3 linked regions of the Homo sapiens genome follow. The protein of the gene in region 1 interacts with the protein of each later gene in a pairwise test. Each region holds a gene or a part of one and is shown in the gene's direction. Other genes may lie near its edges.

What was found.
Region 2: the proteins of SEC13 (region 1) and NUP37 interact in binary tests that used the Homo sapiens proteins (3 or more experiments, as listed by UniProt).
Region 3: the proteins of SEC13 (region 1) and HAPLN2 interact in binary tests that used the Homo sapiens proteins (3 or more experiments, as listed by UniProt).

The regions. Positions count from the first base shown.
Region 1 is NC_000003.12:10,300,284-10,304,112, reverse strand, and holds the end of SEC13 (protein SEC13 homolog), read left to right. Parts: coding exon 1-87; intron 88-2,738; coding exon 2,739-2,852; 3' UTR 2,853-2,965; coding exon of another isoform or gene 2,966-3,007; 3' UTR 3,008-3,182; downstream 3,183-3,829. UniProt on the Homo sapiens protein: Functions as a component of the nuclear pore complex (NPC) and the COPII coat. At the endoplasmic reticulum, SEC13 is involved in the biogenesis of COPII-coated vesicles.
Region 2 is NC_000012.12:102,099,515-102,103,343, reverse strand, and holds part of NUP37 (nucleoporin Nup37), read left to right. Parts: intron 1-2,239; coding exon 2,240-2,312; intron 2,313-3,829. UniProt on the Homo sapiens protein: Component of the Nup107-160 subcomplex of the nuclear pore complex (NPC). The Nup107-160 subcomplex is required for the assembly of a functional NPC.
Region 3 is NC_000001.11:156,617,456-156,621,055, forward strand, and holds the start of HAPLN2 (hyaluronan and proteoglycan link protein 2 precursor), read left to right. Parts: upstream 1-1,959; 5' UTR 1,960-2,052; coding exon of another isoform or gene 2,053-2,080; intron 2,081-2,513; coding exon of another isoform or gene 2,514-2,703; intron 2,704-3,600. UniProt on the Homo sapiens protein: Mediates a firm binding of versican V2 to hyaluronic acid. May play a pivotal role in the formation of the hyaluronan-associated matrix in the central nervous system (CNS) which facilitates neuronal conduction and general structural stabilization.

The DNA.
Region 1 (3,829 bases):
TTGTTGCACAAGTTCAACGATGTGGTGTGGCATGTGAGCTGGTCCATCACAGCCAACATCCTGGCTGTCTCTGGTGGAGACAATAAGGTACATACCCATTCCCCGTGGCATGGTGGACACAGCCTGTTGGTCTTCACCCCGCCCACTAGAGAGGGCACTTGACATTCCCATCTGACTGCAGGCTGGGCAGGAGCCTTAGCCAGGACTGCGTTTTGAGTGTGCCTCTTAGTTACATCATTAATGTCACAGCCCCTGAGGTAGTATTAACACGTCCCCCTTTCACAGATGAGGAAAGAAGCTGACAGAGGCGATTTGACTTGCATGGGGGTCCCAAAACTATGAGGTGGCAGAGCCAGTCAGGCCCATCACCCTACTAAGCATTTGGTCACCTCATGGTGATGTTCAGTTAGCTGTGCCAAAAAGGCAAGTGTATAAGAACCCATAAACAGAAGAAGATTGGGGATATTTTTTGTCCATAACACTGAAAAGGCTTTTTAAAAACCTTTAGAGTTTATGAATACTTGTTATGCTGGTAAGAGGCAGGTACACAGTGGGTGCACTGGAAGAGTTTGCATTTTGCAGCTGAAAGAGTTCTGGAGACCAGCTGCTCAGGGACCCAAATGTACTTCACACAACTGGACTGTGCAGTTAAAAGTGGCCAAGGTCATTTTATGTGACGTGTATTTTACAATTAGAAGGAAAAAAGCTACCCGCAGAAAGGAAGCAGTAACAAGCCATAGCCATCTGCCCAGCTGAATTCCCCTATAAGACAGAGGATCTCTAACGCCGCAGGGTCAGTTCCACGTGGAGTGGCTGTGCTGCGTTTTCAGGCACATCTGCTCTGCGCCTGAAGTGCGAGTTGGTCTGGATCCTGCCAGCCCTTGCTGCTTCTCTCCCTTGCCTATGTTGGTCTTTTACTGTTTCCCAGTGGCCACTTTGGCTCCATGTCTTACCTTTCATTTGTGTGGCTCACGGCACAACCAACACAGGCAAGGCAGAGAAGCAGCTGGTCTCCAGAACTCTTTTCAGCTGCAAAATTGAAACTCTGTACCCATTAAATAACTCCCTTCCCCATTGCCCCTCCCCAGCCCTGGCAGCCACCCTTCTCCTTTCTGTCTATGTGAATGTGACTGCTCTAGCGACCTATCTAAGTGGAATCATACAGTATTTGTCCTTTTGCGACTATGTCACTAGCAGTATGCCCTTAAGGTTCCTCCATGCTGTACGTAGCATGTGTCAGAATTCCTTCCTTTGTAAAGCTAAGTAGTGTTGCATTGTATAGACAGCCCACACCCTGTTTCTACACTTATTCCTCCACCAAAGGGCACCTGGGCTGCTGCCACCTCTTAGCTATTGCGAATAGTGTGGCTGTGAACATGGGTGTGCAGATCTTGAGAGCCTCTGCAGGCGGCTTTTCTGGCCGAGGGTCCCTTTCATCTACAGTGGTCCCAGAAAGATCTAGCAGGCCCCCTCTCAAAGCCATATTTCTAGTGAGTGCCAGAGTCAGGACCAGAACCCAGGTTGATGGCACTCAGGGCAGACCAAGGGACCCAGATTGCCTCAAGCAGGCCCCCAGTGACTTTTTTACAAGGCTGTAAGCAAGTGCCTGGCTGTGCACGCAGTGTTGTGGGGCCCGTCACTGTGCATTTAGGCTTCTTGCTCTTCTTTACAAGCCTGTTTCCTTTCGCTGTCTCCATAGCACCCTTACCTAAAGGACTTAGTATGTTTTCAATCCCAGAGCATTCTGCAGTGTGTTGAGTGAATAGTTTGTCCCTAAAGCAAGAGTTCTTAAAATCAAAATCGTTATTTTCATTTTTAATCAAACTAATATATGTACATAGGTTTAGATTGTTTTTGTTTTTTGTTTTGTTTTTTGAGATCGAGTCTCGCTCTGTCGTCCAGGCTGGAGTGCAGTGGCGCAGTCTCGGCTCACTGCAACCTCCGCCTCCTGGGTTCAAGCGATTCTCCTGCCTCAGCCTCCCCAGTAGCTGGGAGATTACAGGTGGCTGCTAGTTTTTTTGTGTGTATTTTTAGTAGAGATGAGATGGGGTTTCACCAGTTCAGGCTGGTCGCGAACTCCTGGCCTCAGGTGATCCACCCATCTCAGCCTCCCAAAGTGCTGAGATTACAGGCGTGAGCCACCATGCCCGACCTAGACTGATTTTTTTTAATGCAGCCTCCTAATTTTCTCTCCAGGGGCAAACCTTTTCAGCTCTTAGCTATTTCTTATACAGTTTACTTCAGTGTAGAAACAACATATTGAACTGTTACCTTCCTCTACCACAGTAGTTTTCAAACTGCAGTGTTGTTAAACCTGTTAAAACAGATTGCCAGCCCCACCCCCAGAGCTTCCTAATCAGTTGTTCCAGGCCCCAAGAATCTGCAGTTGTAGCAAGCTCCCAGGTGACCGATGCTCTGCTCTGGTCTGGGGACCACACTTTGCGAACCCTGCTCCCCGCCACCCCATATCCTCTCGCTGTAGCTCTGTCACAGTTTGCTGAAAACAGTATCCTGTGTTGACATCATCATCCACAGCTGCTGTTATTGTTACTCCTTTTTTTCTGTGAGTTTTTATTCCTGGACTCTCATTTTGGTGAGATTTCAGTGGAGGAGGGACATGCTCTGTTCACCCACAAGCCTCTGGGCAGTGGTTCTTGATGAGGATGAGGCTCATATTTAGGGGACAGCAGAGGGAAGGGCACAGACCCGTGATAATCTGCTTGTGCACTGACTCGCAGGTGACCCTGTGGAAGGAGTCAGTTGATGGGCAGTGGGTGTGCATCAGTGATGTCAACAAGGGCCAGGGCTCCGTATCAGCATCAGTGACAGAGGGCCAGCAGAACGAGCAGTGACAAGACAGGTGGGGCCTGGCTCCCCACCCGCCAGCTCCAGGACTGCCCCTTCCTGGGCCAACTAACCAGACAACTGGGAAGAGCCCCCAACTCCAACAGGATTATTTTCCCAGGAGGAGTTACAGATGCAGCCACAGATTGATCATCTGCCTTAACGTGATCGGAGATGCTTTGTAATCTACTGTCCAGCTGAAAGCACTCATGTTACGAGGAAGAAACTACAAGTGATGTTCAAATCTATTTTGGGTCATTTTTATGTACCTTTGGGTTCAGGCATTATTTGGGGGGTTTTGTTTCCAAAGGAACTAAATAAAGTCATATTGCTTATAATTCCTGCTGCGTTATCCTAACCACCCCACCCCACCAGCTCAGTTTGACTCTTGTCGGTCCACGCACTAGAACAAACTATTCACAAAGGCCACGGCTGTGATGGCCTGGCTTAACCCCACGCACAAAGGTGGCTTGTCACTGCATGAGCATCTCTGATTCAGTTTATACTGAAAGCACCATACAGAGCACTGGACTCAGCCTTTGGTGACAAGGACTGTAGCCCTGGGTCTGCTACTTACCCTCTCGGTACACATCCTGTTCTGCAGAATGGGACTAATACAGTCTGCCCTACAGGATGGCTGCAAGATTCAAACACGCTAGTGCATCTGGTGACCTACAAAATGCCACGCAGGTGCAACGTGGTATTAACCAAACACCAATAGTTAAGATGCTGGCCCAGAAAGTGGGCACGATTCATTTAGTTTATTGACCCTGTCAGGAAAAGGAGGGCCCCATGATGGGAGACCTAACTGACCCTGAACCAGGTATCACCTTTCAGCGGAGGCCCTGTGACCCTGACAATCGCCATAGCCATCAGTGAGCCTGCGGTGAGCCAGACCCTACACTGGATCTTTCACACATTCGCTAATTTAAGCAACACGAGAACCCCGTGTGGGTGTACCCAGTTCACTGATGAGGAAGCGCTC
Region 2 (3,829 bases), on another chromosome or scaffold:
AAATATCTTGGGAATAAATTTAACTGAGTTGGTAAAAGATCTGTACACAGAAACGATAAAACATTGATGAAAGACATTGAACTTGGCACAAATAATTGGAAAGATATCCTGTGTTCATGGATTGGATGAATTAATATTGTTAAAATGTTCTTACTCCTCAAAGCAATCCACAGATTCAATGCAATGCCTATCTATCAAAACTCCAATGTCATTCTTCACAGAAATAGAAAAATCAATTAAAAAATTTATATGAAATTATAAAACACCCCAGATAGCCAAAGCAATTTTGAGCAAAAAAAAGAACAAACCCGGAGGCATCACACTACCTGATTTCAAAATAAAAGCTATGGTATTCAAGACAGCATGGTACTAACATAAAAAGAGATACCTTGACCAATAGAATAAGATAGAGAGCCCAGAAATAAATTCATGCATTTATGGTCAATCGATTATTTACAAAGGTGCCAAGAACATAAAATGAAGAAAGGACAGTGTCTTCAATGAATGATGTTGCAAAACTGTATTTACACACAGAAGAATGAAATTGAACCGTTATTTCACTCCATATGCAGAATCAACTGAAATTGGATTAAAGACTTAAACTTAAGACCTTAAACTGTAAAATGGCTAGAAGAAAACAGAAAAAGCTTCACAACATTAATCTCCACAACAGTGAATTTTTTGGATCTGACCCTAAAAGCACAGGAAACAAAAGCAAAACTAGACAAGTGGAATTGTATTAAACTAAAGAGCTGCACAGCAAAGGAAACAACAGAGTGAAGATGCAACCTACAGATTGTGAGAAAATATTTGCAAATCATACATCTTGATAAGGGGCTAATATCAACAATATGTAGGGAACTCAAATTACTCAATCACAAGAAAACAGTTATATTTTAAAATGGGCAAAGAACCTGAGTAGACAGACATTTCTTGAAAGAAGACATGCTTTATTCCACTACAACTTTAATTTTGCCTCTGAGAAGACCTTGGACAAAGAATCATTCCCTGGTGGCTTTGATCTGTTTTCTCTAACAACTCTTGACAAATTACTGGAAAGGGGTGTAGTAGCAAAGGTCTACCAACACATCAGGGTCTGTGGATTAAGAGCCTTTAGTTGAGAAAAAATGGCTCACTGTACTCAAACTAAAGAATAAATTTAGATTTGTGTATGATACTCTTTCTACCAAAGAATTGAAAATAAACTTTGTTTTTCAGTATATAAATATAATTTAAATTTTTTTCTCAGCCATTGTCTCACATCCTGAGAATCTAGAAAATTTAGGATTAAAGATAAACTAGTTTAAAAAGTAGTTGTTGGCCAGGCGCAGTGGCTCATGCCTGTAATCCCAGCACTTTGGGAGGCCAAGATGGGCGGATCATCTGAGGTCAGGAGTTCGAGACCAGCCTGGCCAACGTGGTGAAACCCTGTCTCTACTAAAAATACAAAAATTAGCCACGTGTGGTGGTGGGCGCCTGTAATCCCAGCTACTTGGGAGGCTGAGGTAGGAGAATCGTTTGAACCTGGGAGGTGGAGGCTGCAGTGGTATGAAATCATACCACTGCACTCCAGCCTGGGCAACAGAGCAAGTCTGTCTCAAAGGAAAAAAAAAGGAGTGTTTGCTGCTTAGGTTTTGTTTTTTAATTTAATAATCCATTGATTAACTACTGAAAAACATGTTTTAAATGTTTAAAGTATAAATAATACTCCAGCTTTTAGTAGGTATAAATATTATCAGCTTTTATAGTTATAAAAATAGTATCTTACTTCATCTGATTTATTTGGAGGAATAGAAAAAACTAAGGATTATGGATAACAGAAGAGGGCAAAGACTAAGGTAGATGTATAACAATATTTTTAATATGTCTTGGTGACCTGGCTAAAATGAAGATACTTTTTAAAATCCATCCTTTTATGCTTTTAAGAAAACGTTTAAAATTAAATTCAAGTGCTGATTTAGTGTAAAATTCTACACTTTTATTACTGAAGAAGCACATCCAGAATAGACTAACCTTTTGTGTGTTCTCAAAATAAAATAATATGACTCCTACTTTCTGTGATGGCTGTATAATACTTTTTACAGTAGAGCCACAACATTCTTCTTTCCCCCTCCATAAAAAGCATGATTATGAGTTATGATAAAAGCTTCAGTGATCTGAAGGGAAGGATGGGGGGGAGGGGGAGACCTTTCACTTACAAAGGCTAAAAATTGGTATATTTTTGTTTTTTTGCTTCCAGATTTTGTACTTCAGCTGCTGATATGAAAATTAGATTATTTACTTCAGATCTTCAGGATAAAAATGAATATAAGGTATGTTGACAACCATATAAATCTTTAGAGCTTATTTTAAAACGTGTTTGTTTTTTGCTTTTTTAATTGGATTTATTCCAATTTAAAATGGCTTTTTATGGTCATCATTAAAGTATATAATTTAGAGTCTCATTTACTCTACTATAGGTTATAATAACTAGCTTACTATATTATTAAGAACTAAGTTCTTAATGACTGCAGATTATAAATCTGATATCTCTTATTAAATTGAAATATTAGGTAGGAACAACAAATAAGAAAACTAGAAATTTACAGTTGGATATAGTAGGAGTATAATAGACATGACCATTCATAGAGTAAGAGTTGAACTTCATGGGAACAAATGATCAGTACAGCATAGCACAGGCAGAATTCCAAAGCGGTTAAGAGCACAGACACAGAAGCCAGATTCCTTGCATTTAAACTCCAGTGTTATTACTTAGTCGTGGTGTGACCTTGGTTAAGTAACCTAATCTCTTTGTGCTAATATCCTTACCTGTAAAATGTGGGTAATCATAGCAGCTGCCTTATAGGATTATGAGCATTGACTGAGCAAATTCATATAAAACGCTTAGAATAATGTTGATACATAGTAAACGCCGTATGTGTGTTTTCTATTACTATAATAATAACCCTCAGATTGGGTCAAAATTGCATCATGTTTTCTTTTAAGAATGGTATTGCCTTCTTGGCTTTCTAATAAGCCAAAATATGAATATTGTTATAAAACAAAGATAAATTACAAACCTTTCCAATCATTTAGAAAATAGTAAAAATTATGCTGTAAGCTATTTACAGTGGGCTTAATGTACTGTATGGATTGGTTAATTTAAGGCTGTACCAGAAATAACCAAGTATATAAATGGCACATAAAATTTTGACCTATCCAAAGTTAATATGCTAGTTATAATACACATTAAACATTTACGGTTAATTTAGTTTGTCTTGTAGACTGTGACAGAAGCTTTGGAGAATGATTTGGAGGACCTGGGTTTGTTAAAGTTGCTCAGGAATGTTTGACCCAAATCTTTTTGTTTTTTGTTTTTTTTTTAATATTACATTTCTACATAGTGAGCAGTACTATATAGAACTGCTTTAATAACCTCAGAACTGAGATCAAATTTGAGTTTTTGGAAAGAAGGAAGGGTAGAAAGAATGATAACCATTAAAGTAATTATCTGACAGGCCTATTTAGGATTTCAACTATGAAGATTTAGACAGATTGAACTTTATCTGCTCACACAGTCCTCCACTGTGCAACTTCTCATTTGTTGCTTCTGTGTCGAGATTTTTTGTGTTGGTGATAACTATGGGCTTATAACAACTAGCTGTCTTCACTGCTAGCAGTCACATTGAGCATGTAAATGAAGGCATTAGATGGTGAAGTCCATCCTGTGTGTGTTTGTTAAGTAGTGAGTATGCAGAACAGCAGATATAATGTAAAAAGCCTAGAGGTACCCTACCTCGGTACCCCTAAAAAGTTTTCTAGCTCTAATTTTTATTTAGGCTTTATATAA
Region 3 (3,600 bases), on another chromosome or scaffold:
TCCCACCTCAAGCCTCCCGAGGAGCTGGGATTACAGGCGCACACCACCATGCCTGGCTAATTTTTGTATTTTTAGTAGAGACAGAGTTTCACCATGTTGGCCAGGCTGGTCTCGAACTCCTGACCTCAGGTGATCCGCCCACTTCGGCCTCCCAAAGTGTTGGGATTATAGGTGTGAGCCATAGTGCCCAGCCTCTTTTTTTTTTTTTTTTTAACTCACAGAACATGAAATTATATGGTTTTAATAATGCAAAGCTACTTCCATGGGGCTACAGCAGAGAGAAAATAAGGCTAAAATGGAACTTAAAGCTCAAAACATTTCTACATGGCTGTTTACAGGGGCAGGTGGAGGGAGTCCTCCCTCTGCATTAATAGAAAACAAAAACAATTGGGCCTATTCGGCATTGTTGGAAATGTTCTATGTCTTGATCTGGTGGGTTTTTACCTGTGTACAATATATGTACACACGTAAAAATTCATTTAGCTGTACACATAATTTCTATGACTTTTTTGTATGTAAATTATACCTCAATGGAAAGGTTTTAAAATGGACTTAATTAGGCCCAGCATGGTGGCTCACGCCTGTAATCCCAGCATTTGGGGAGGCTGAGGTGGGCGGATTGCTTGAGCCCAGGAGTTCAAGACCAGCCTGGGCAACATGATGAAACCTCATCTCTACAAAAAAATACAAAAATTATCTTGGCGTGGTGGCGCACGTCTGTAGTCCCAGATGCTCTGAAGGCTGAGGAAAGAGGAGGATGGCTTGAACCCGGGAGGCAGAGCAGAGGTAGCAGTGAGCCGAGACTGCGCCACTGCACTCCAGCCTGGGTGACAGAGCCAGACTCTGTCTCAAAAAAAAAAAAAAAAAAAAGTTAATTAGACGGGTGTGGTGGTGCGCGCCTGTAGTCCTAGATAATTTCGAGGCTAAGGGGGAAGATCTCTTGAGCCCAGGTGTTCGAGGCTGCAGTGAGCTATGATTGGGCCACTGCACTCCTACTTGGGCAACAGATAGAGGCCTTGTCTTAAAAAAAAAATTTTAAAAAGGCCGGGCACGGTGGCTCACGCCTGTAATCCCAGCACTTTGGGAGGCCGAGGCAGGCGGATCACCAGGTCAGGAGATCGAGACCATCCTGGTTAACACGGGGAAACCCCGTCTCTACTTAAAATACAAAAAATTAGCCGGGTGTGGTGGTGGGTGCCTGTAGTCCCAGCTACTTGGGAGGCTGAGGCAGAAGAATGGCATGAACCCGGGAGTCGGAGCTTGCAGTGAGCCAAGATCGTGCCACCGCACTCCAGCCTGAGCGACAGTGCGAGACTCCGTCTCAAAAAAAAAAAAAAAAAAAAAAAAAAGACTTGAGAGAAAGTGAATTTCCATCCAGGAAGATTAAGGATCCCCTTCTGAGTACTTTAAAAAGGTTATCTATTTGTGCTGAGGGAAGAGGTAGAATATTAGGGAACCAATAAGATAACTTCTCTTTTGGAGAGGTTTCCAAAGTCCTTCTGTCCTCAGAAATTCTCATGTTCCTCCCCAGGGACAGAAAAATCCTCCTTGCTGTCTAATCTCCATCTCTCCTATTGCAATGCTAGCCACTCCCTCTGCCCTCATGGAGCCCAGCCTTTCCCCTGGCCTCAGACAAAATCTCTTTAGAGCCCTGTAATTTGGAGTGTTGAGAGAGATTCCATTTCAACCTTTTCACCATCCGTTCTCTGCCCCTCACCCTATTCTCTTCTTCTTGGGGATGTCAATTCCTGTTCTGAGCCCGCCCCCCACCCAGGCCCTTTTCCGGTGGTATGTGCCAGCCGGTCCTGCATCCCACATCCCCAGCTGTTGACATTTCATTGCCATTACCCACAGAATAAAGAAAGGGGCCCTGTTATTCAACAATAGGGGAAAAGACAGAGACAATGGGAAATTGTGCTTCCGATGGGGTGGGGACTGAGAAGGAAAGGACAGACAGACAGACAGACAGGGGGTTGTACAGAAGAGGTCCGGTTTCTTGAAGCAGCTGGAAGTCCTGGATAGTTCCCACCTGAAAGTCTGTTTGCAAAGGCAATGCGCACTCAGGCACCAGAGGGCAGAGGTGAGTACTCTGTTGTGGGGAGAGGGGAGATGGGGATGCTGCTTAGATGAGGCGCATATGGAAAGGGAGGCAGCTCGAGCTTGGCAGTTATGGATCTTTGAGCCACATTTAGAGTTCATCCCCATCCCCATCAGTCCAACACCTTCATATCCACCGATCAATCTACACCTCTCTGGTTCAAAGGCATCGAGAAAAAATGAAGCACCTCACTTTCTGCACTCTTCCAGGTCATCATTCCTGGGTTGCTCCCTTTATTCCACTCCCCTTCATGGGTTCCCAGCCCTCATCCCAACCCCAGCATCTTCCCCTGGTCCCGGAATAGTGATTTCCACAGATATAGTCACAGGGCTGGACACAGGTCTCTTAACATGGCTTAGTGGACTGATGGGGGTGGGGGTCGTTCTTGGCACCTTGGCTTCTTCTTTGAGCACAGGACAGAAGCTTTTCCTCAAAGGTGCAAAAGGAGCAACTGTGTTGAACAGGGGCTCAAGTTCCAGGGTTTTAAGGTGCTTGGAACTCCCAGGAGCCTGGCAAACCTTCATCCAGAACCTCTTCCTCAAGCAAGACAAAAAGCTGCTAAGCACTGCTCCCTCCGTCTCTGTGAAGAGACCAGCTTCTAACAGGTAGGCAATGGGCTGCTGACTACTCTCATTTTCTGTAAGAGGTATGAAGAGCATGTGTGTGCACTGTTTTGAAATGCAGAAATATAGATTAGTGATTAAGCGCTTGAGCCTCACTGTCAGATCTGTATTCAAATCCCAGCAAACCCTTCCTCTTACTAGCTGTGTGACCTCATTTCCTAAAATAGGTGCACCTTGGTTTCAGCATGTGTACAGTAGGATTTATAATTGTTTCTGCCTCAGGATTGCTGGGAGGAGTAAATATAAAAATATACATGTAAAGTGCTTAGAGCAGTGTCAGGCACATTCAATTTTAAACGTGTTCATTTGAGCTATCATTATTGTTGGTCTCAGTCAATCTCAGTCCTCACGATCATTCTTACTTATCAAGTTCTCCTATAAAGAAGTGGTTCTCTTGCTCATGTTCGCATCCCAGATACTTTCACCTTTAACCACTGAGAAGTTTTCTATGCATAACCTCCGTTTCTCCTACTGCAAACTGGTCTTTGGTCCTCATTTGCAGAAAGATGGAGCTCCATTCTTTAGATTTCTGGCAACTTCTCAGGGTGCTTCCTCCATCTCCCCATTCCCCATCCCATCTTCCCATGAATCCTTAATGTAAGTTCATTAAACCATACACACTTATTTAGCACCTACTATGTACCAGAAACTATGCTGGGAACTGGAGATAACAGCTAACACATAGACAGCACTTATTACATTCCAGACACTATTTCAAGCATTTTGCGTATATCAATTTATTTATTCCTCACAACTACTCAGTGAGGTAGGTGTGCTATTATTCCCCACATTTCACTGATGAGGACACTGAGGCAGAGAGAGGTTAAGGAACTTGTGCATGATAATTAACTTATGCATAGTCATGCAATTAGGAAATAG